Linked DNA regions of Homo sapiens. The protein of the gene in region 2 interacts with the protein of the main gene of each other region in a pairwise test. Each region holds a gene or a part of one and is shown on either strand. Other genes may lie near its edges. The genes, in order: FNDC3B, ABHD8 and NLRP3.

Region 1 (7,106 bases), on a different chromosome or scaffold from region 2:
TCAGAAGCTCTTCCATAGACACTCAAAAATACACATATTCCATCTTTTTCATTCACAATCACATTCTCACAGACACAGTCCCTTTTTCTACCTGAATGAGATGCAGTAAGGAATCCATAAATTCAATGAGTGTTATAATCAATGAGTGTTATAATCAGATTCCTTACTGCATCTCAGTCAGGTAGAAACTGGGACTGTGTCTGTGAGAATGTGATTGTGAATGAAAAAGGGAATCTACTTGAAATAATTGATCTTATGTTTAAAAGTTGTTCAAGTCTTTGTTTTCCAGTCATTTATATCTATAAACTCACCTACCTTATCCAAATGCTACCTTTTTTGCCTCACTTAAGTCATTCTTCCCTATGCCTATAGAAATAGCCACTGTTTTTCCTTATGTGGCATCAAAATAGGTTCTCTCTAAACTACCTCCAAAACTTCATTTAAACACATAAACCTTCCTCCAAATGAACTGATCTACCCAAGAGATTCATCTACAAAAAGACAGATGCCATTCTGAGTTGATGTTTCTCTACCTATATGTGGTGGCCCTCATTCTTCCATCTTATTCTTAGTTTCTGAACACTTAATTCACAGGCAAAAGGTGGTATGAGACAATAACTGATGCCAAAACTAAACAGAAACATATTTCTGTGATTCAATGATAGATTTCATTACAGAAAGGAAGTAATTACGTATGGTTTATGAGGTATAATTATTTTGAGATTTAAACTAGCCTACACTTTTAGAAAAATTATCTTTGGATTTCTTCCACATCTGTCTATTCAGAGAGTGAAACAACAGAAGTAGGCTAACATGAAAAGATTTTCAAATATTTGTTATTAAGTGCAAAGTTGCATGGCATCTGTGACCAAAATGTAGTATTTCTGCCATGAAGTATTAATAAAAAATAAACAATGCAATATTATTTCCTTACCAAGAAATAGATCAAAGAAGGTCTACTCAAATATTCTTAGCAGAACAACCAACCACCATGAAATAATATTCTCATGTAAAAGATGTGGAAACATCATTTGAGATGTCTCTGTCTTGATAATTCACTCTATGGCAAACATCTTGAGTATTACCTTGCAAGTCTGAATCATTCGACTTTGGGCTGCTTCTTGCTCGTCGCTCTGTTTTCTTAATTCCGGGACCACTACCGCTGCCGCCTCCGCCACTTCCACCACTATGGCCCTTCCCATAGCCATTGTATACTGTTGTGCAGCTGCTTTTGTAGATAGAAGAAGGAGGGCTGTTGAGGCGGTTCTGGCGATCGATCTGGCGGTCTTTCAGTTTTTTGTGCGGAGGCTTGCTGTACTGGTCTTCTCGGGTGATGTAGGTTGACATTCCATAAAATGGTATAATTTCTAAAATGGATGATTATGATAAACCCAAACTCAGTTTACATTTTCAATAATAAATTATTAAATGGTCAAATGATCTGGCTCCTGAAGAAGTCTAAAGTATAAAGGAAGTCTAAAGTATTACTAAATAGAGTCTAATAAATATTTTTTAAGAAAATACTGCTGGGCACAGTGGCTCACGCTTTGGGAGGCCGAGGTGGGCGGACTGTCTGAGCTTGGGAGTTCGAAACTAGCCTGGGCAACATGGTGAAACCCCATCCCTACTAAAAATACAAAAAATTAGCCAGGCGTGGTGGTAGGCGCCTATAATCCCAGCTATCCAGGAGGCTGAGGCAGGAGAATCGCTTGAACCCTGGAGGCGGAGGTTGCAGTGAACTGAGATTGCATCACTGCACTCCAGCCTGAGCGACAGAGCAAGACTCTGTCTCAAAAAGAAAAAGAAAAAAGAAAATGCCATATACATGATATACATTTAAAGCATTCCCATTTGTTTCTAACCAATCAAGGAATAATCAATCATTAAAAACTACACTGTGTGTTCAGAAAAATTCCTATATTACAGAGAATACTGAAGACAAGGTTGTTATCCCTAAAGAGCTCATATTCTAGTTGCATTTATAACTGAGTTTGATTTTTACCTTTCAATATGTTTTCAGTAGTTGCAATACATGAAAAAGTCAGAACAAATAAAATACCCCTATTAAACATGTACTTAGAATCAAGCTACTTTAAAAGTCTACTCATCCCTGTAGACAGAATAGTATTTCTACTGGGAAGTATATTGCAGTCAAAGTTTTCTGTGGCATACAAAAGAGCCAACATTTGAACAAATTTAACTAAGATAATGAGATGACATATTTCCATTTAAAATAATCAAAGCTCACAGAATCAGGGGAAATGTTCAAGGAGGAAGTATAAGGATAAAGAAAAGCCATCTCTGAAATCTGGTGCCAAACATAATAAGCTGTGGTCTCAAACTTCTCTTTTGGAGTAATAGAAGGCAAGACAAATGTAGAATGTCACCTGACTTTACTATGCACATTTTAAAGTGGCTCAAAAGAAAATAGAAGCCTGCAAGCAATCTTATGATCTCAAGGGGAAAACTTTATGTTAAATTTAAATTTTTAAATCAGTTCAAAATTATTTTTAGGTATCAGTAAAAATGACAATGCGTAACATAAAGATTGGGTCCTTACATCTTTATAAGAAAAAAGGGTCACCTCTTCTATGGAGTGACAATATAAATTACCATCCAAATCTGAACACTTCTGAGAGCGAAAAGGAAGGAATATCAATAATTTCTTCAAGGCAAGAGACCTACACTAGGACTGTCACAGGCACAACAGAAATGTATGGTTACCCTGCATAATTTAACAAAACTGCTGTCTCAATTACTCAACAGTAAAGCTCCACTGTTTCTTACTGTTAACATAGCTAAAGCATAAACAAGAGTTGTTTTGTTAAAAAACAAATCTTCATGAGAGAACCAGTTTGCACTAGAGAACGTGTCAAAACAAATATAATCCTATTCAGAGAGTGTGTATCCAAAGAAACTATGTCAAAATATACCAGAAGGATAGTAAATGTTCTAAACACCACGATGTATTACACATGAGATTTAACATATTCACTATGGGCAGTAATAATCTTTTCAGACATGTTGAAAACTTTTAAAACTCTTATAGTTTAGAAAATTAATATTTAAATTGCTTTTAGGTATGCACACTAAGAACTAAGGTAAAAGAATATATCAATGGCTTATTTATAAAGGGAAGGGATTTTGTTTTACTGCTTTAATTTGAAATCAATGAAGGCATTTTTATTTGCATACATTATTGCTCTGTGTTATTTTAATGGAATTAGACCCAAATACACCATAAAATGAAGAGACTACAATTTTGCTTAACTCTAATGACGATTTAAATCATACTGTTGTCTTGCCTAAAATTGCAAAGGACAGCATTTACAAAACAGTAACCATGTGGCATCCTACTAACAGACTGCTAAAATAAGGCAAGTCAGACATATACCAGCAAGCAATGAGTCAGTCACCAAGGCCTTTCATGTCATCAGAGCTCAGATACAGCCAGAAAGCTCTAAGAAACACTCAATTATTTAATGCATGTTGAGTCAAAGCACTGAATACATTAAAAAAATTACAGCTAACTAAATTTTTTCAGTTTTTATCCAAATGTTTTCATAGTATATCCCCAATACTTGATGTTTTCTTGGTGTGTCGCATGGAAAAAAGATCAAATTGATAGGAAGTTATTGATGCTGCTATGAAATCAAAGTATTGATTTCATGTTTTGCTATCATCCCCTTATACGACATTGTGAAAGCACCTGATTAATTTGAATCATGTCAAATTTCTTTGACTACAAAAAAAAATAAACAAAACACACATACAGTCAAATTCTATCCCTAAGTTACAACGATATATTTCACTTAAAATATCATCTCAAAAAAGTTTTTTCTGTGAATAAGTTATAATGTGAGATGAACAGGGAATAATTATATATATAAAAATATAATTATAAATAAATAATTAATTATATAGAAATTATATAATTATATATATATAATTCTTAAAAGTGATAACTTGCTCAAACATTCTATGGTATAACAGGCATTTCTTCTACAATGTATCTAAACCAACATAATAAATGTCTGAAGCAGTAAAATGCTTCCATTCATAGTCAGACTCAGAAGAAAATCACTTTGCAAAGTCCTAGAGGCTAAAGTCTAATTTTACCCTCAATTATCTGGTTTCTTAGTATCCATTTTGATAGAGAAAGCCTTTAGACTAAACCAACACCAGGGTCAAAACTTTAAAAAGATATAATGTTGGTAGCTCTGAGGCTCTTTTCATATCCAGGTAAGTATTTGCCTAACAATCAGTGAAATTGCGGCTGCACTAATGGCTACTCTTAAACTAAAAGCAGGTTCAGGAAGGCCACATCAACAGCCAGGGGATTTTTGAGTTCTGCCAGCATCACAACATAGAGCCTTTTAGGAAACCTAAAGGTTCTTGAGACTTCACAATCTTCAAACACTGGAAATGGGGCACAAAACACTTTTCAATTTCCCTTTAACTGGTAGATCATATGGATACCAAAGAAACGATGTGCCACAGTTGTACCTCAGGCCACTCTCACATACAAACATGCTTTCAGGACATGGGAACGATGTCACACTGCCACTTTTCTAAAATAAAAGGTGGCTACCTTACTCCTTGATCTTGTAAGGTGGGGGTTGGGGCCGAGTTTGTGAAAACTGAAAGAAAGAAAAAGAACTAAACCCACAAAGTAATTTTTCCAAGGCACCATTCAGGACAAAGGAAGCTAGGAATTCCCCATGAGTCTTACAAACCACCTAGATCCTTTTCTACTATGCTTATTTCACAAGAAACAAAGGACCGCCTTGAACTATTGAAACGCTGTAATCAGTTTCAACGGCTCCTGACGCCAACGAAAATCTACTCACCTTGCTCACCATATATTGTGTGGGGAAGATGATGCTGGGGAAAAAACTGAGGCGGCATATCTCCAGGTCCGGTAACAGGTGGGTAGTAAGCCGTGTGTGAGTTATGAATAAAATGTGGATGGTGAGTCAGATAGGGAGGGAGATGATGGGTTGGAGACATGGCTGAGGGGTAGCTTGGGGGATAACACTCAGGAGACTGGGGTGTGACCACCACCCGGCGGACTCCAGTACTATCTTCAATCACCTAAAGAAAAACACAAAAGGAAAGAACGCAGTACATATTAGCAGCCTATGAATATATATAGTATTAATAACTTCCACTTTAATTTTACTTTTCTCTTCCACCATAGAAAAAAACAAATGCATGTTGTATTCTGGTTCTCTAGTTCAACCAGTCAAATGAGTTCTAGAAGTAATAACATGTAACTATAAAAACGTACAAAAACAAATTATTCATTGACATCTGATTCTGATCCCATGTAACTTTTTGGAGAGACCAGTATTTGATAATAAATCTTGTTTTTGTCTTAAAATTTTCACTGGCTTCATCCAAGACGAGTGAATTTAATGTGTGCTGAAACTGATTCTAGGAGTGACTTTTGAATTTAACTATCAGTTCAGTGGTTTTCCAGAAAGAGGCTTTCTGTGCCACCTAAGTACTTTTCCAGGGCTAGGCTTCTAGATATGCTGACAACATTCTTCCCCTTTCCTGCTTTAACATGCACAGTTCCATCATCATCAGGGCTTTAGGAAACAAAGGTGGCATTAACGTCAGAAGCCGTAAGTGTGCCCTAAGATTACTTAATCTAGGACTGAGGATATGGATGAAATGAGGGATTCTGACCAAAGAAAAACTTAAGTAACCCCAAATCAGTATGGACACTTTTGCTCCCAAGATGTCCTCATGATGAGTGTTGTGAAAGAAGATGCTTGGAAAAGCAACCTGCTATGAGAAAAGCAAGCCAATCAACACTCTATCCATTCTTTTTCCAATTCTTTGTTCATTATTTATTTTTAGAAATGGGATTTCACTCTGTTGCCCAGGCTGAAGTGCAGTGGCTACACGCAGGTGTGATCATCATACACTACAGCCTTGAACTGGCCTCAAGTCATCTTCCTGCCTCAGCCTCCAAAGTAGCTGGGACTACAGGCATGCACGACCGTGCCCAGCTCCTCTGAATGTTTTCTAATTCATCCAAGTAGAGCAACGAAGGCAGCACAATGCCAATATTTATTGCCTCTGTGGCCAGCGTCACACTACCAGCTCCTATGAGCAAACAACTTTGGTGAAACACAATGAAAGAAATAACTAACACAACAGATACCATGATGAAAAGGTAAAGTTGTAGGGTACAGAGAATGATAACGTGAGATGGGAGAATCAGGAAAGGCTTCAGGGACCTCAAACAATTGGCAGGGCTGGGACAGCTGAGAGATGGCCTCTAGGTCAGGGCCCTGCAAGGAAGTGGACACGGAGTAAACCTGGCAGTGAGGGCCAGGCTGCCAAGAAGCCATGCCAGCTGATCTAATCAAATGCACGATCGGGCACACACTCTGACAGGAAGTTTTGTTTTACAAAAAAAAAAAAATCTAAAAACCGCACAAAACTGACCTTCTATATTGAAATGGATTTCTCATTATACCTCAGGAGGTTAATTATAGGACAAAATAAAATGACTTAATCATGTCTAAAACATCTTAATAACAACAAAAAACTATACTTAGCTTCATATTTTAAAAGTAGTGCTTAAGACAGATTGGCAAGTCTATCAATGTTTATGTTATATTTCAGTGTACAAAATAGGTTTAGATTGAATGAACGGCCATTAATCCTTATGTTAAAAAAACAGAAATCTTTACATTCATTAATAAATCTATCAAAATAAATGTTTCTACTGTGTTAATAGTTCATAAATAAGATAATATTACCTATTTAAAATTAAGATTCCTAGTGAGATGCCTAGGACACAGCTTTTCATGTGATCTTTAATAAATATAATCTCTTCTGGGCCTTGGCAAGCTAATCACACTAACCCCATTTATGAATGCATGGAAGCTAATTTACAAGTGTATGTGAAGTGGGTGCTTAAACCATGACATTGGAAATTCTCATGCATGTATTGATAATTATCATCAAAGCTTCTTCTATTTTGTCTAAAACATAGAGCTGCATGCTGTTTGGTAGCACATGTATATAAATAGCACATGTAGTATAAATACATCATGATTTTTTTCCTACGATCTGACACAAACATG
Region 2 (7,106 bases):
CTCCCAAAGTGCTGGGATTACAGGAGTGAGCCACCGCGCCCGGCCTGGAGGAGGATTTTGTCAACTTCAACTCTACCAACATTAGGAGCTGGATCATTCTTTGCTGGGGGGGCGGGGGTGGGCGGGGAAGGGGCGGGTAGCTGGGGTGGGGGCTGCTATCCTGTGCATTTGTAGGGTGTTGAGCAGCATCCCTGGCCTCCACCCACTAGATGCCAGTAGTACCCCCTCCCCCTCAGTCGTGACACCTAAAAATGTCTCCATGCATTTCCACGTGTTCCTTGGGGGCAGAATCCTCCTTAGTTAAGAACCACCAGTCCAGTTATACTTTAATGGTTTTTGTTTTTTTTTTTTTTTCTTTAAGAAACGGGGTCTTGCTCTGTCGCCCAGGCTGGAGTGCAGTGGTGCGAGCATGGCTCACCACAGCCTTGAACTCCTGGGTTCAAGCGATCCGCCCCACTCAGCCTCCCAAGTTGCAGCGATTATTGGCGTGAACCACCTCGCCGGGCTAGTATCCAGGGCTATTCTAAGTGCTAAGGATCCCCAGACCCTTTCTAATCTGAACTCGCTAATTAGAGTTTCTAATCTAAAGATCCCCTGGTGCCGGTCTTCTAGAATTATATAGGTCACCGGTCTCATACAAATCCTCCGCTGTGAGGAGAGCCTTCTTACAGCGGTGGGGACAGTGCGTAATTGCTAACACCTGTCCAGGGCAGCCCTGCTTTCTAGATTCTACTTCTGATGCTAGACCTAATGCTCCTGTTTGCCTGGGGTCAGAACAAGATACAGCAACTAGAGGCCACGCCCACCCGGCAGCCACGCCCCCTCGGGAAGAAAGCACGCCCACCAAGCGCTACCACGCCCCCCGCAGAGGCCACGCCCCTCCCGGGCAGCACCCTGGGGATTTGTAGCTGTGGCGCCCCAGGTGCCCGCCTCTACCTCGGCCATGCGCTGGTCTTCCTCCACCGGCACAAACTTATCGTGCATGCCGTGGACAAGCAGGACGGGCACGGTGAGCTCGGCGTGGTAGACCTCGTCGCCCTCGGGCCAGTACTGGCCGCTCATCATGGCCCGGAGTACGAAGGATGACACGTTGAAAGCGTTGCCCTCCTTTAACAGCTGCTTCTCCTTGGCTCCTTGGCGGGCGAAGCCGGCCCTGGTGGTGGTGGAGGCACCGCTAGAGCCCCTTATGCCAGCCCGACTGCCGTGGGGTGCCCCCGATGCCAGCCCTAGTCCCAGCGGTACAGTCCCCCCTCCCATCCAACTCGAGCAGATGCCTGGGTTCGCCAGGGCCAGGATCACGGTCTTTGGGGTGGGGACACTCACTTGAGGAAGCTCCAGGCCAGGCAGGGCGACAAGCAGTGCAGGACGCAGGTGGGCATGTTGAAGATTGAGCAGAAGCTGGGCTCCAGCGCCGTAGGGCCCCCGCCATTGATCATGATCACCTTGTGCACTAGGTCTGGGTACTCATGTGCCAGGAATGTGCAGAAAGAGACACTGCCCGGAACGGGTGGGGTGATAGGAGGATTGAAGGGAGGCGGTCAGCAGGATACAAGCAGTGACCATTTTGTTTTGCTTTGTTTTTGTTTTTGTTTGAGACAGTTTTACTCTGTCCCCCAGGCTGGAATGCAGTGGCTCCATCTTGGCTCACTGCAACCTCTGCCTCCCAGGTTCAAGCGATTCTCCTGCCTCAGTCTCCCGAGTAGCTGAGATTGCAGGCGCACACCACCACACCCAGGTAATTTTTTTTTTTTTTTTTTTTTTTTTTGAGACGGAGTCTCGCTCTGTCGCCCAGGCCGGACTGCGGACTGCAGTGGCGCAATCTCGGCTCACTGCAAGCTCCGCTTCCCGGGTTCACGCCATTCTCCTGCCTCAGCCTCCCGAGTAGCTGGGACTACAGGCGCCCGCCACCGCGCCCGGCTAATTTTTTGTATTTTTAGTAGAGATGGGGTTTCACCATGTTGGTCGGGCTGGTCTCAAATTCCTGACCTCAAGTGATCCATCCGCCTCGGCCTCCCAAAGTGCTGGGATTACAGGCCTGAGCCACTGCGCCTGGCCTGGTTTGTTTTTGTTTTTGAGATGGAGTCTCATTCTGTTGCCCAGGTTGGAGTACAGTGATGCAATCTCAGCTCACTGCAACCTCTGCCTCCTGGGTTCAACTGATTCTCCTTCCTCAGCCTCCCGAGTAGCTGGGAGTACAGGCATGCACCACCACACCTGGCTAATTTTTGTATTTTTTAGTAGACACAGGGTTTCAGCATGTTGCTCAGGCTGGTCGAGAACTCCTGACCTCAAGTGATCCACCCACCTTGGCTTCCCAAAGTGCGGGGATTACAGGCATGAGCCACTGGGCTGGCCTGTTTTGTTTTTGTTTTTGAGACAAGGTTTCGCTGTCGCCTAGGCTGGAGTGGTGCGGTGGCGTAATCATAGCTCCCTGCAGCCTTGACTTCCTGGGCTCAAGAGATCCTCCCACCTCAGCCTTCTGAATAGCTGGGACTACAGGCATGTGCCACCATGCTCAGCTAATTTTTAAAAATTTTTTTATAAAGACAGGGTCTCCTTATGTTGCCCAGGCTGGTCTTGAACTCCTGGGCTCAAGTGATCCTCTGGCCTTAACCTCCCAAAGTGCTGGGATTATAGGCGTGAGCCGTGACACCCGGCCTGGTGAGGGGGTTCATGTCCTCCCCCTACCCAGAAGGCAGGTCCTTGGAAGCCAAGATTCTTCCCCTGGGGTCCATGGACACCTGAAGGGGTGAGGGATGAGTGCGGCCTCTCAAATACCGTGAAAGTGTGAGTTTGAGTGTTGAGGATGGAACTTATTTTGAAGAGAGAATCTGGATCCAGAAGTTTCACCAGACTTTTTATTTTAATTGTTTAAAATTTTTGTAGAGATGGGGGTCTCACTATGTTGCCCAGGCTGGTCTTGAACTTCTGGGCTCAAGTGATCCTTCCACCTTGGCCTTCCAAAGTGTTAAGATTATAGATATGAGCCACTGTGCCCGGCCCTCATCAGATTCTTCAAGCCACCATGACCCAAAAGCGGTAAGAATTACTCATCAGCAAGTGGTAGGAAAGCAATCTGATTAAACAAATGCTTCCGGCTGCCCAGGGGAGGTCACTGTTTCCTACTATCCCTTCCCTTTCAGGATGTTCTGCCACCTGCCTCTGGGCATGACATATCTGTCTTCCTTATACAAGATGGAAGGCCTGAGAAGCCCCCAAAGCTGAGCTCCTCATTCCTACAAAAGCAGGGGTCAACAAACTATGTACGGCCTGTGGGCTAGTCATTTGCTTTTTTAAATACAGTTTACACTTTTGGAGATTTGAAAAATGTTTCCTAAATAAGGTTTTTTTTTTTTTTTTTGAGATGGAGTCCTGCTCTGTTGCCCACGCTGGAGCACAGTGGCGCGATCTCGGCTCACTGCAACCTCCGCCTCCCGGGTTCAAGTGATTCTCCTGTCTCAGCCTCCCGAGTAGCTGGGATTACAGGCATCTGCCATTATGCCCGGCTAATTTTTGTATTTTTAGTAGAGACGGGGTTTCACCGTGTTAGTCAGGCTGGTCTTGAACTCCCGACCTCAGGTGATCTGCCCACCTTGGCCTCCCAAAGTGCTGGGATTAGAGGCGTGAGCCACCGTGCCTGGCCAAAAAATGTTTCCTAAATAAAGTTTTATCAGAAGTTCCAACAGTGACTGTATGGCCTGCAAACCTAAAATATTCGCTATCCGATCCTTTAAGGAAATGTTTGCCAGCCCCTGCTGTAATGAGGAAAGGATACAGACAGGAGTCAGGCAGACCTGATTGTGTCAGGGACTTCCTGTATGCCTTTGGGCAGGTTGCTTCACCTCTCTGAGCTTCAGCCTCCACATTCCTGAAGTTGTAAATGTGCTGACCTAATAGCACTGTTATGGGGTCATGGGAACTATTGTAGGTGGGTGTTTTTTTTGTTTTTTTGTTTTTTTCTCGAGACAGAGTCTTGCTCTGTCACTCAGGCTGGAGTGCAATGGTGCGATCTCGGCTCACTGCAACCCCCACCTCATGGGTTCGAATGATTATCCTGCCTCAGCCTCCCAAGTAGCTGGGATTATAGGCACCTGCAACCATACCCAGCTACTTTTTGTATTTTTATTAGAGACGGGGTTTCACCATTTTGGCCAGGCTGGTCTTGAACTCCTGACCTTGTGATCCGCCTGCCTCGGCCTCCAAAAGTTCTGGGATTACAGGTGTGAACCACTGTGCCCAGCAGGTGGGTGCTCATTTAATTAGAGGAATCATTTCTCATAAGCATCAACTTTTGAGTATGTTATATAAAGAAATATAAACAAATAAGAGCTGTTACCTCTCAGTCTAGATTCCTTTCTTTTAGATACTTATGTAACTTCTTTGTTTTCTTTTCTTTTTTTTTTTTTTTTACTTTTTAGTTTTTTGTAGAGATGAGATCTTGCTTATGTTGCCCAGGTTGGTCTTGAACTCCTCAGCTATAGCAGTCCTCCCACCTCAGCTTCCCAAAGTGTTGGGATTATAGGTGTAAGCCACCACACCTGGCCACTTATTTATTTTTCTTTTTTCTTTTTTTTTTTTTTTGAGATGGAGTCTCACTCTGTCACCCAGGCTGGAGTGCAGTGGCACAATCTCGGCTCACTGCAAGCTCCACCTCCTGGGTGCACGCCATTCTCCTGCCTCAGCCTCCTGAGTAGCTGGGACTACAGGCGCCTGCCACCATGCCTGGCTAATTTTTTTTTGTATTTTTTAGTAGAGACGGGGTTTCACCGTGTTAGCCAGGATGGTCTTGATCTCCTGACCTCCTGATCCGCCCGCCTCGGCCTCCCAAATTGCTGGGATTACAGGTGTGAGCCACCACGCCTGGCCTTTTTTTCTTGTCTAATTGCATAGGCTAGAATCTCTAAAACAGTGGTGCTCAACTTGCCTGGCTGTTCAATCTTGCCTTTCTTCCTGGATAAAGGAGAGAATGAGGCCACTTGGTAGTGGTCAAGCCCTGGGGACCAAGCCTTCCATGGAGGGGTTCTTGGTAAGTTTTAGGTTGTATTACCTGCCCTTTAAGCAGGAGTGAATTACAGTAACCCATGCCTTTGTAAATGCCTAGAATTTACAGGATTCCGATGAGCGCTTCCTGAATGCACAGTGTTCTCCAGGGCAGTTGATTTTTTAACTTAGTCTAAGGCAGTGGTTCTCAGCTGGGGGTAATTCTGCCCACCAGGGCACGCTTGGCAACTACTGAAGACATTTTTGACTGTCATGATCAACACTAGATTGTGTAGTTGCATCCAGTGGGCAGAAGCCAGGGATGCTACTAAACATCCTATAGCCCCTCACAGAAAAAAAATAACCTGGCCAAACACGATAGTGCTGGGATTGAACAACACTGCTTTTTTTTTTTTTTTTTTTTTTTTGGGCAGAGTCTCACTCTGTTGCTCAGGCTGGAGTGCAGTGGTGTGATCTTGGCTCACTGCAACCTCTGCCTCCCAGGTTCAAGTGATTCTCCTGCCTCACACCCCCGAGTAGCTGGGATTACAGGCACACACCATCATGCCTGGTTAATTTTTTGTACTTTTAGTAGAGATGGGGTTTCACCATGTTGGCCAAACTGGTGTTGAACTCCTGACCTCAAGTGATCTGCCTGCTTTGGCTTCCTAAAGTGCTAGGATTACAGGCGTAAGCCACTGCACCTGGCCTGAGCAACACTGCTTTAGAACAATGTGAAACAATATCAGTGATGACGGAAATCCCTGTCTGATTACATATGCTAATGGGAGTTTTCAGCCTGGTATAGCGGCTCATGCCTGTTACCCCACCACATCGGGAGGCCAAGGAGGGAGGATGGCTTGAGCCCAGGAGTTCAAGACCAGCCTGGGCAACATAATGAGACCCCCCCCCCATTCTCTATATAATTTTTTTTTGAACTTGAAAATTGGCCTGGTGCGTTGGCTCACGCCTGTAATCCCAGCGCTTTGGGAGGCCGAGGAGGGCGAATCACGAGGTCAGGAGATCGAGACCATCCTGGCTAACACGGTGAAACCCCGTCTGTACTAAAAAGACAAAAAATTAGCCAGGCATGGTAGCGGGTGCCTGTAGTCCCAGCTACTAGGGAGGCTGAGGCAGGAGAATGGCATGAACCTGGGAGGTGGAGCTTGCAGTGAGCCAGGATCACGCCACTGCACTCCAGCCTGGGGGACAGAGTGAGACTCCATCTCAAAAAAAAAAAAAAAAAAAAAAATTAAGGCTGAGCACAATGACTCACACCTGTAGTCCTAGCACTTTGGGAGGCTGAGGTGCAAGGATCACTTGAGCCCAGTAGTTAAAGAACATCTTGGGCAACATAGTGAGATGCCATCTCTATTTAAAAGAAAAAAAAATTTTAAAAATGTAAAAATTAAATTGAAAAATGGGATTTTTTTCAAGGAGAAAAATTAGGATTTTTGTTTGCTTTGTTTTGTTTTAGGAGATAAGGTTTTGCCATGTTGTCCAAACTCATCTCCAATGATCCATCCACAAAGTGCTGGGATTACAAATGTGCACCACCGCGCGTGGTGGCCCCTTTTTTTTTTTTCATGACGGAGTCTCCTTCTGTCGCCCAGGCTGGAGTGCAGTGGCACAATATGATCTTGGCTCACTGCAAGCTCCGTCTCCCGTGCTCATGCCATTCTCCTGCCTCAGCCTCCCGAGTAGCTGGGACTATAGGTGCCCACCACCACACCCAGCTAATTTTTTGTATTTTTAGTAGAGACAGGGTTTCACCGTGTTAGCCAGGATGGTCTCAATCTTCTGACCTCGTGATCCGCCCGCCTCAGCCTCCCAAAGTGCTGGGATTACAGGCGTGAGCCACCGCGCCCGGATTTTTTTTTCTTTTTTAAAGAGCGACAGGTTCTTGCCATGCTGCCCAGGCTGGAGTGCAGTGGTGTGATCACAGTTCACTGCAGCCTCGACCTCCCAGACTCAAGCAATCTCCTGCCTCAGCCCTTAAGTAGGTGGAACTATATGCGTGCACCTCCTCACCTAGCTAATGTTTGTACTTTTTGTAGAGCTAGGGGGTTCTCCCTATGTTGCCCAGGCTGGTCTCAAACTCCTTGCCTCAAGATATCCTCCCGCCT
Region 3 (8,020 bases), on a different chromosome or scaffold from region 2:
AGATCTCACCATTGCACTCCAGCCTGGGCAACAAGAGCAACTCCGTCTCAAAAAAAAATATATATATATATATATATAAAGATGGAAAATTGTACACTATGTGCACTTGGCCACAATTTTTTTTAAAAGTCTTCCTTCCACTCACCCCACTTCGGCTCATCTCTTTTTGCTTTCTCATAAAGGTCTCTCCTGTTGATCGCAGCGAAGATCCACACGGCCATGGCCCACGCCTTCTCCTCCCCATTGAAGTCGATCATTAGCGTGGCTAGATCCACATGGTCTGCCTTCTCTGTCTGACCCCTCGGGAGGGGGATGCAGCCCTTCTGGGGAGGATAGTCCTCTAAGTGCATCTTAAATTTCTTCAAGTCCACATCCTCCAGGTCCTCCAGGTACCTGGCCAGCTTGCAGCGGGTGCTTGCCATCTTCATCTGCAGCTGTTTTCAGGGTCCTTAGGCTTCGGTCCACACTAAGATACCAGGCAGTGAACACGGCACACGGATGAGTCTTTTTTAAAGTCTCCACTTTGAGAGATATAAATTATCAAAAACTCAGCAAACAGAAAGAAAAAAATGTCACATGACTGTAACAAGTCAAAATCTTTAATTTTGAAAAGTTAGCCAAGGCCGGGCACAGTGGCTCACGCCTGTAATCCCAGCACTTTGAGAGGCCAAGGCAGGCAGATCACCTGAGCTGAGGAATTCAAGACCAGCCTGGCCAACATGGCAAAACTGTGTCTCTACTAAAAGTACAAAAATGAGCCGGGTGTGGTGGCGGGCGCCTGTAATCCCAGCTACTCAGGAAGTTGAGGTAGGAGAATTGATTGAACCCGGGAAGTGGAGGCTGCAGTGAGCCAAGATCACGCCACTGCACTCCAGCCTAGGCGACACAGCAAGACTCCATCTCAAAAAAAAAAAAGTTAGCCAAATGCTTACCAGAAAGTTCTCCTGTTGGCTCGATCCAGGAGTGTGTCCTGAGCCATGGAAGAAAGGTTTCCCTATGGAGGGAAAAATATGCAAACAAATCCATAAACAGGATTGTATTACAGTTTACGGTGAACAACCACTTCACGATGCCATCTTGACCCATCAGCAAGAAAATTTTTGTCCCGTTGATTACGGGGCTATGACATTGGACAAACTCTTCACTATTCCTCAACTTCAGTTTCCTCATCTACAAAATGAGAAAGCAGAAGAGAATGTTTTCAGTTCCTCCAAACTGAAGGCTCTGGCTCTTTGCTTCTGTTTTTGTGAGGGAAGAGGGATGAGAGACAATAGAAGGAGAAGGCCAGGAGGTGAGTAAGTGTGTTGATAACAGAACAGGACGTGGCTAGGGAGAGAGGAGAGAGAACATAAAAGCTTGCAGAGGAGGGGACAGTCTTTGACTGCACTTCTATCAACCAGTGGATTGAAGTGAGATGAAGCTGGGAGTGCATAATGGAGAATAATAAAAACATACATCCCTGTAATCCCAGCACTTTGGGAGGCCGAGGTGGGCGGATCACCTGAGGTCAGGAGTTGGAGACCAGGCTCACCAAACAACAGGGAGAAATCCCGTCTCTACTAAAAATACAAAAATTAACCGGGCATGGTACCAGGCACCTGTAATCCCAGCTACTCGGGAGGCTGAGGCAGGAGAATCGCTTGAACCCAGGAGGCGGAGGTTGCGATGAGCCAAGATCACACCACTGCACTCCAGCCTGGGCAATAAGAGCAAAACTCCATCTCAAAAAATAAAATAGAATAAAATAAAATAAATAAAAACATACATCCTTTAATGTCTCCTTGCAAAATTCGCAATTGTTATCATTATAATTCACATTAATTTAGAGCTTTCCACAGGCTAGGCACTCACTGATGTTTTTCCCCATCTAACCTGCACAGAGCTCTATGAGGTGCACCTATTCCTAGCCCCATTTTATAGATGCATAAACTGAGTCTTAGGGGGACTAGGAAGCCTGCCGAGGGGTTTAGAACCAGGAAGGAACAGAGCCAGGATTTTGACCAGAGATATGAGACCATGTCTTCCATCACTTGTTTCAGTCAGACAAAGACAAAGACAACAAAATAGATGACTAAAAGACACACTTCCCCAGCATTTATCACAGGTGTATCACTGCAGCATTCACCAACATAGTCTTCCCAACTAGACTGTGAGTTCCACAAAAACTAGCAATCACCTGCTGTATCTTTAGATCTTCCATATCTCCTAGAGTCCGGATGGATGAACAAGTTGGCTTTGTTTGGAATTGTTCCCTCCTTGATCCCTTGATTATACTCTATTTGGCAAAGCACCTCAACCTAAAGCCATAAATAACACTCAAGGGAGGCAGAGAGCCTGGAAAACGGTGGAGCTCTCCAAATTGGAATTTCTGTGACTGCAGTTCAATGTCAAGATGCCTCAGACTCACTCATCTCTCCCGTCCCATCTCCATTCCTGCCTATCTACTCCTCGCCTCCTGAGCCCTGCAAACCCAGCCCTGTGCATCCTGAGGTGACTGCTCTCCAGACAGCCCTATTAGCTCCGCATACCCTCCCAGCTCCTGCCCATCCTGAGGTGACTGCTCTCCAGACAGCCCTATTAGCTCCGCATACCCTCCCAGCTCCTGCCCCATCAGTCCTTCCATCTGCATCAGGATTCTGCCTTTCTTCTGTGCTCCTTCCACCCTAACACCAGCACAAAAATCTGCTGCCCTTTGGTCTTTAAGGAGGTTTGTTTCCTTCTGTATATCCCATCCATCTTCTCCCCTGGGAGGGATACTGGGCAAATCTGCTGAAGTCGTGGGTGTAAACTATGGTTGCTGCCGCTGTCCTCCCCGCTTCCCCCCGCCACATACACACACACGAACTTGCACACGTAGAGCCCAAATAATGATAAAAGAACATTCCAGAAATGTTGTTGAAGCACAACCTTGGAGACGCCAGAAGAAATTCCTAGTGCATTAACCAGGACAAGTTCTGCCCTCTGAACACAATCTCCCCCACTGCTCTCCCGGTCCTGTCGCCCACACTGCCCCGCGGAGCTGGACTTACCCAGATGCCAGCCTCAGGAACAGCTAGAGAGGAAATGCAATGAATTTATAGCAGTCGCAGCCCCAGAAGGGGCAGGAAGGATGTGGTCTCCACTTACATCAGAGCAGAGGCAGAGAGACTAATGGTTAATCACATAGCTGGATTTTCCAAATGGGATCAACAGTGTTGTCAAAACCGTGTCTCGGTTCCATACTGGGGTTCACCTTGCTCTCCTCTGAGGCACCCCACAGAAGCAGGGTGGGAGGCCAGTATGAGATGGGGCTGGGGGTCAAATCGGCAGTGCTAAATGGATGTTGCCTCTGACACTGCCCGCTGCAACGGCTCCACTGAGAGTGAGGGAAGTGAAACTAAGGACATGCCATGCGAGTGAGTAAAGAATCCAGAGCATGACCTGACCCAGCCTTCAAACTCCAGAGTCCATGCCCTGTCCTCTCACAGCAAGATGGCTGGAAGGCAGTACAGGTTCTCTCCGACATGTTCTACTTTTAAAGCACAAATTTTACTCCCTGACTCATTGACTCACCTGTTCCACTAACACTCACGGAATGGCTGGTATGTGGCAGGCATGCACACAAAGCCTCAGCTTGAGTAGCTTGAGGAGAGACACACACAGACCTACTCTGCAGCTCATGAGACGGCCGCAGGACCACAGACCGGCAAAGGCACAAGTTCAACAGAGCTTGGTGGGTGAGAGGCACTCGCTCAGCCTCTGGGTGAGTGAAAAGGACGAGCACCCAGTTCAGTGGAGGGATGTCAGCAAATGACTGGGTCTGTCTGTGCCTCATACCTGTAAAAGGGTGACAATAATTGCCTGCTACTTCTTTAGATCTTCCAAATCTCCTAGACTCAGGATGGATGAACAAGTGGTTTTGCTTGGAATTGCCCCCTCCTTGATCCCTTCATTATACTGCATTTGACCAAGCACTACATCAACCCAAATAACGGTACCTATCCTAGAAGGCTGTCAGAAAACACTGAGTGAATGGCTAAACGTGAGGCCTTTAAAACAGAGCCTGGCACAGAGAAGCTAGAATAAGCAGTTGGTTCCGATGACTACCACCTTTCTACAGAACTGCAGAGAGAATGCTCTACAACATGAGAGAGGCATCTAGTCCTGCTTAGGGGCATGACAGCAGACCTGAGTCTCCATGAACCAGGTGAAAGGTGTCATTCGGGGCTGGAGCTGAGGCAGGAGCAGCAAAAACTTCAGGTGCTGAAGCTAGAGAGAAAGCAGACCAAATATGCTCCAAAAGAAAGGAGCTCAGCCTGGGTGCAGTGGCTCATGCCTGTAATCCCAGCACTTTGAGAGGCCAAGGCAGGCAGATCACAAGGTCAGGAGTTTGAGACCAGCCTGGCCAACATGACGAAACCCCATCTCTACTAAAAATATAAAAAAAAATAGCTGGGTGTGGTGGCGGGCACCTGTAATCCCAGCTACTCAGGAAGCTGAGGCAAGAGAATCACTTGAACCTGGGAGGTGGAGGCTGCAGTGAGCTGAGATTGTGCCACTGCACTCCAGCCTGGGTGACAAGAGCAAGACTCCATTTCAAAAAAAAAAAAAGGAGCTCATTGGCTGAACCTGGGATCTTTTTGTTTTTGTTTGTTTAGTCAAGTTAATTTAGGTATAATTCAGCCGGGCGCAGTGGCTCACGCCTGTAATCCCAGCTCTCAGGGAGGCAAGAGGCGGGAGGATAGCTTGAGCCCAGGAGTTCGAGACCTGCCTGGGCAATATAGTGAGACCCCATTCTCCAGAAAAAGGAAAAAAAAAAGACAAATTTAGGTATAATTCATATGCAGTAAAAATCCATGCCTTTATAAAAACAGACCCATAGACCAGTGGAACAGAAATAAACTCAAGTATATGCAGTCAACTAATTCTTTGACAAGGTCACCAAGAAGACACAATGGAGAAAGGACAATCTCTTCAATAAAGATGTTGGCTATAGAAGTGTGAAAAAAAAATCAAGAAAAATATAAGATTTTGAAAAATTAAGCTTTTGGTGAAACTGGATTTCCACACGCAAAAGAATAAAACTTGGCACACACAAAAACCAACTCAAAATGGATTAAAGATCTAAACATAAGATCTAAAACTGTAAAACTCCTAGAAGAAAATAGAGAAGAAGCCAGGCATGGTGGCTCATGCCTGTAATCCCAGCACTCTGGGAGGCTGAGGCAGGAGGATCACCTGAGGCCAGAAGTTCACAGTCAGCCTGGGCAACATAGTGAGACTTTGTGTCTACAAAATTAAAAAAAAAAAAATTAGCCAGGCATGGTGCTGTGCACCTGTAGCCCAGCTACTCAGGAGGCCGAGGCAAGAAGATCACTTGAGCCCAGGAATTTGAGGTTACAGTGAGCTATAATGACACTACTGCATTCCAGCCTGGGTAACAGAATGAGACCCAATCTCTAAACAGATAAAAAACTAAATATAAAAAATAGAAAACAGAGGAGAAAACTTCTTGATATTAGCCTTGGCATGGATATTTTTAATGTCTCAACAAAAGCAAAGGAACAAAAGTAAAGATAAATAAGTGGGAATACATCAAAGTAAAAAGCTCCTGTATAGCAAAAGAAACAATCAACAGAGTGAAAAGGTAGCCAACAAATTGGAAGAAAATAGTTTTAAGCCATATATCAGATAAGTAGTTAATATGCAAAATATGTAAGGAATTCACACAACTCAAAGCATAAAACAAATAATCTGATTTTTAAAATGAAGAAAGGAACTGAATAGACATTTCTCTAAAAAAGAAACAAAAATGGTCAACATGTATACAAAAAAGTGCTCAACATCACTAATCATCAGGGAAATGCAAACCAAACCCACAATGAGGTACCACCTCAAACCTGTTAGGATGGCTATTAGCAAAATGACAAGAGACAAACATTGGCTAGGGCGTGAAGAACAGGGAACCCTTGCACATTGCTGCTGGGAATGCAGATTGGTGCAGCCATTGCAGAAAACAATATGGAGGTTCCTAAAGAAATTAAAAATAGAACTACCGTATGACCCAGCAATCCTTCTTCTGAGTGTGTATCCAAAGGAAATAAAATCACCACCTCACAAAGACATCTGTGCACTCATGTTCATAGCAGCATTATTCACCATGGTCCAGATAGGCAAACAACCCAAGTGTCTATTGACAGATGAATAAATAAAGAGTTTGGGGCATATATACACAATACAATCTTAGTTAGTATTAAAAATTGAGACTCTGCTATTTGCCACAACATAGATGAACCCGGTGGACTTTACACAAAGCATAATAAGCCAGGCACAGAAAGACAAACACTACATGATCTCACTCATATGTGGAACCTTAAAAAAAAAAAAAAAAAAAGTTAGGCCAGGAGTGGTGCCTCACACCTGTAATCCCAGCACTTTGGGAGGCTGAGGTGAGTGGATCACTTGAGCCCAAGAGCTTGAGACCAGCCTGGGCAAGATAGTGAGGCTTCACCTCTACCAAAAAAATGAAAAAAAGAAAAGAAAGGAGGGAGGGAGGGAAGGAAGCCAGGTGCAGTGGTGTGCACATGTCACCCCAGCTACTTGAGAGGCTGGGAGGCTGAGGTGGGAGGATTGCTTGAGTCTGGGAGGTCGAGGCTGCAGTGAGCCGAGATCACACCACTGCACTCCAGCCTGAGTGACAGACCGAGATCCTGTCTCAAAAAAAAATAGTTGAATATATAGAAACAGAGAGTTACCGGGGTAGAGGAAATAAAATGACGGTCAAAGGGTACGAAATTTCGGTTATGTAGGATAAATAAGCCGAGAGATCTAACAAACAGTGTGGGAACGATAGTTAAAAATATTATAAACCTGAAATTTGCTAAGAGAGATTTTAGATGTTTTTACCACCCACAAGAAAGATTATTATGTGAGATGGTGGCTATGTTAACTCATGTTAATTTGCTTGACTGCAGCAATCATTTCACTATGTATATCAAACTGCCATGTTATACACCTGAAATATGTACAATAAAATAAATATTCGCACCTTTTTCATGCACAGGCCTGTGAGTGCTCACAAGCATATAGCTACCCACCACCACAGCCCACACAGAGCACCTGCATCAGCTGCACATGCTCCCTGTGCAGCCTCTGTCCCCACCCACTGTGCTGCCACATAGTCAGCCTCTGTCCCCACCCGCAGCCCCACTTCTTCCACCTGCTAAAGCATTACCTTTTCCAGAGCATCACATAAACAGTGTGCAGCCTTTGGTGAGCGAGTCCGCTCACTTCATATGATGCCTGTGAGATTCAGATCAGTAGCTTATTCCTTTTTACTGCAGTTAAGTATTTCATGGGTTGGATAGGCCACAATTTGGTTTTCTATTCCCTAGGCAAAGGACAGTTGGGCTGTTTCCGTTTTTGGCAATCGTCAATTATGCCACTGTCACTCATGCAGCTGGCGAACTGGCTGCAATTGTGTAAGGACATCAGTCACTTGGGGCAGTGGGAAGTTCACGAGAAGCAGATGAGGTTTCCAGCCTTCGCTGCTTCACTCTCCGCTGAATGCTGCGACCACTCCTGTGGTCCGACTCCTTGCCTGCGACCCTCACCTCAGCTTTCCTGTGAGGCTCAAATAAAACAAGACCTGATCTATAATACATTATTGTAGAGAGGAAAAAATAAATAAAATAATACCTGACAGCAAAATGTAAACTGTACAGTAGTATTCAAATTGTAGGTCAGGCCAGTTTCAGTGGCTCACACCTGTAATCCCAACGCTTTGGGAGGTTTGAGGCAGGAGGATCACTTGAAGCCAGGAGGCCAAGAGCAGCCTGGGCAACATAGTGAGACCCCATCTCCACAAAAAATTAAAAAATAGACGGATGTGGTGGTGCATGCCTGTAGTACCAGCTACTCAGGACGCTGAGGTGGGAGGATCGCTTGAGCCCAGGAAATTGAGGCTGCAGTGAGCTAGGACTGTGCCACTGCACTCCAGCCTGGGTGACAGAGTGAGACCCTATATTAAAAAAATGCAGAT

What was found.
Region 1: the proteins of ABHD8 (region 2) and FNDC3B interact in binary tests that used the Homo sapiens proteins (3 or more experiments, as listed by UniProt).
Region 3: the proteins of ABHD8 (region 2) and NLRP3 come close enough for resonance energy transfer, tested with the Homo sapiens proteins (one study listed by BioGRID).

What each region holds. Positions count from the first base shown.
Region 1 is NC_000003.12:172,245,521-172,252,626, reverse strand, and holds part of FNDC3B (fibronectin type III domain-containing protein 3B), read right to left. Parts: intron 5,095-7,106; coding exon 4,851-5,094; intron 1,368-4,850; coding exon 1,086-1,367; intron 1-1,085. UniProt on the Homo sapiens protein: May be a positive regulator of adipogenesis.
Region 2 is NC_000019.10:17,293,352-17,300,457, forward strand, and holds part of ABHD8 (protein ABHD8), read right to left. Parts: intron 5,027-7,106; exon of another isoform or gene 4,961-5,026; intron 1,495-4,960; coding exon 1,324-1,494; intron 1,154-1,323; coding exon 937-1,153; intron 1-936. UniProt on the Homo sapiens protein: Negatively regulates NLRP3-driven inflammation. Promotes NLRP3 degradation through the chaperone-mediated autophagy (CMA) pathway, hence attenuating inflammasome activation and IL1B secretion.
Region 3 is NC_000001.11:247,411,203-247,419,222, reverse strand, and holds the start of NLRP3 (NACHT, LRR and PYD domains-containing protein 3), read right to left. Parts: upstream 3,051-8,020; 5' UTR 3,030-3,050; exon of another isoform or gene 2,908-3,029; intron 2,811-2,907; exon of another isoform or gene 2,177-2,810; intron 1,171-2,176; 5' UTR 429-1,170; coding exon of another isoform or gene 423-428; coding exon 146-422; intron 1-145. UniProt on the Homo sapiens protein: Sensor component of the NLRP3 inflammasome, which mediates inflammasome activation in response to defects in membrane integrity, leading to secretion of inflammatory cytokines IL1B and IL18 and pyroptosis.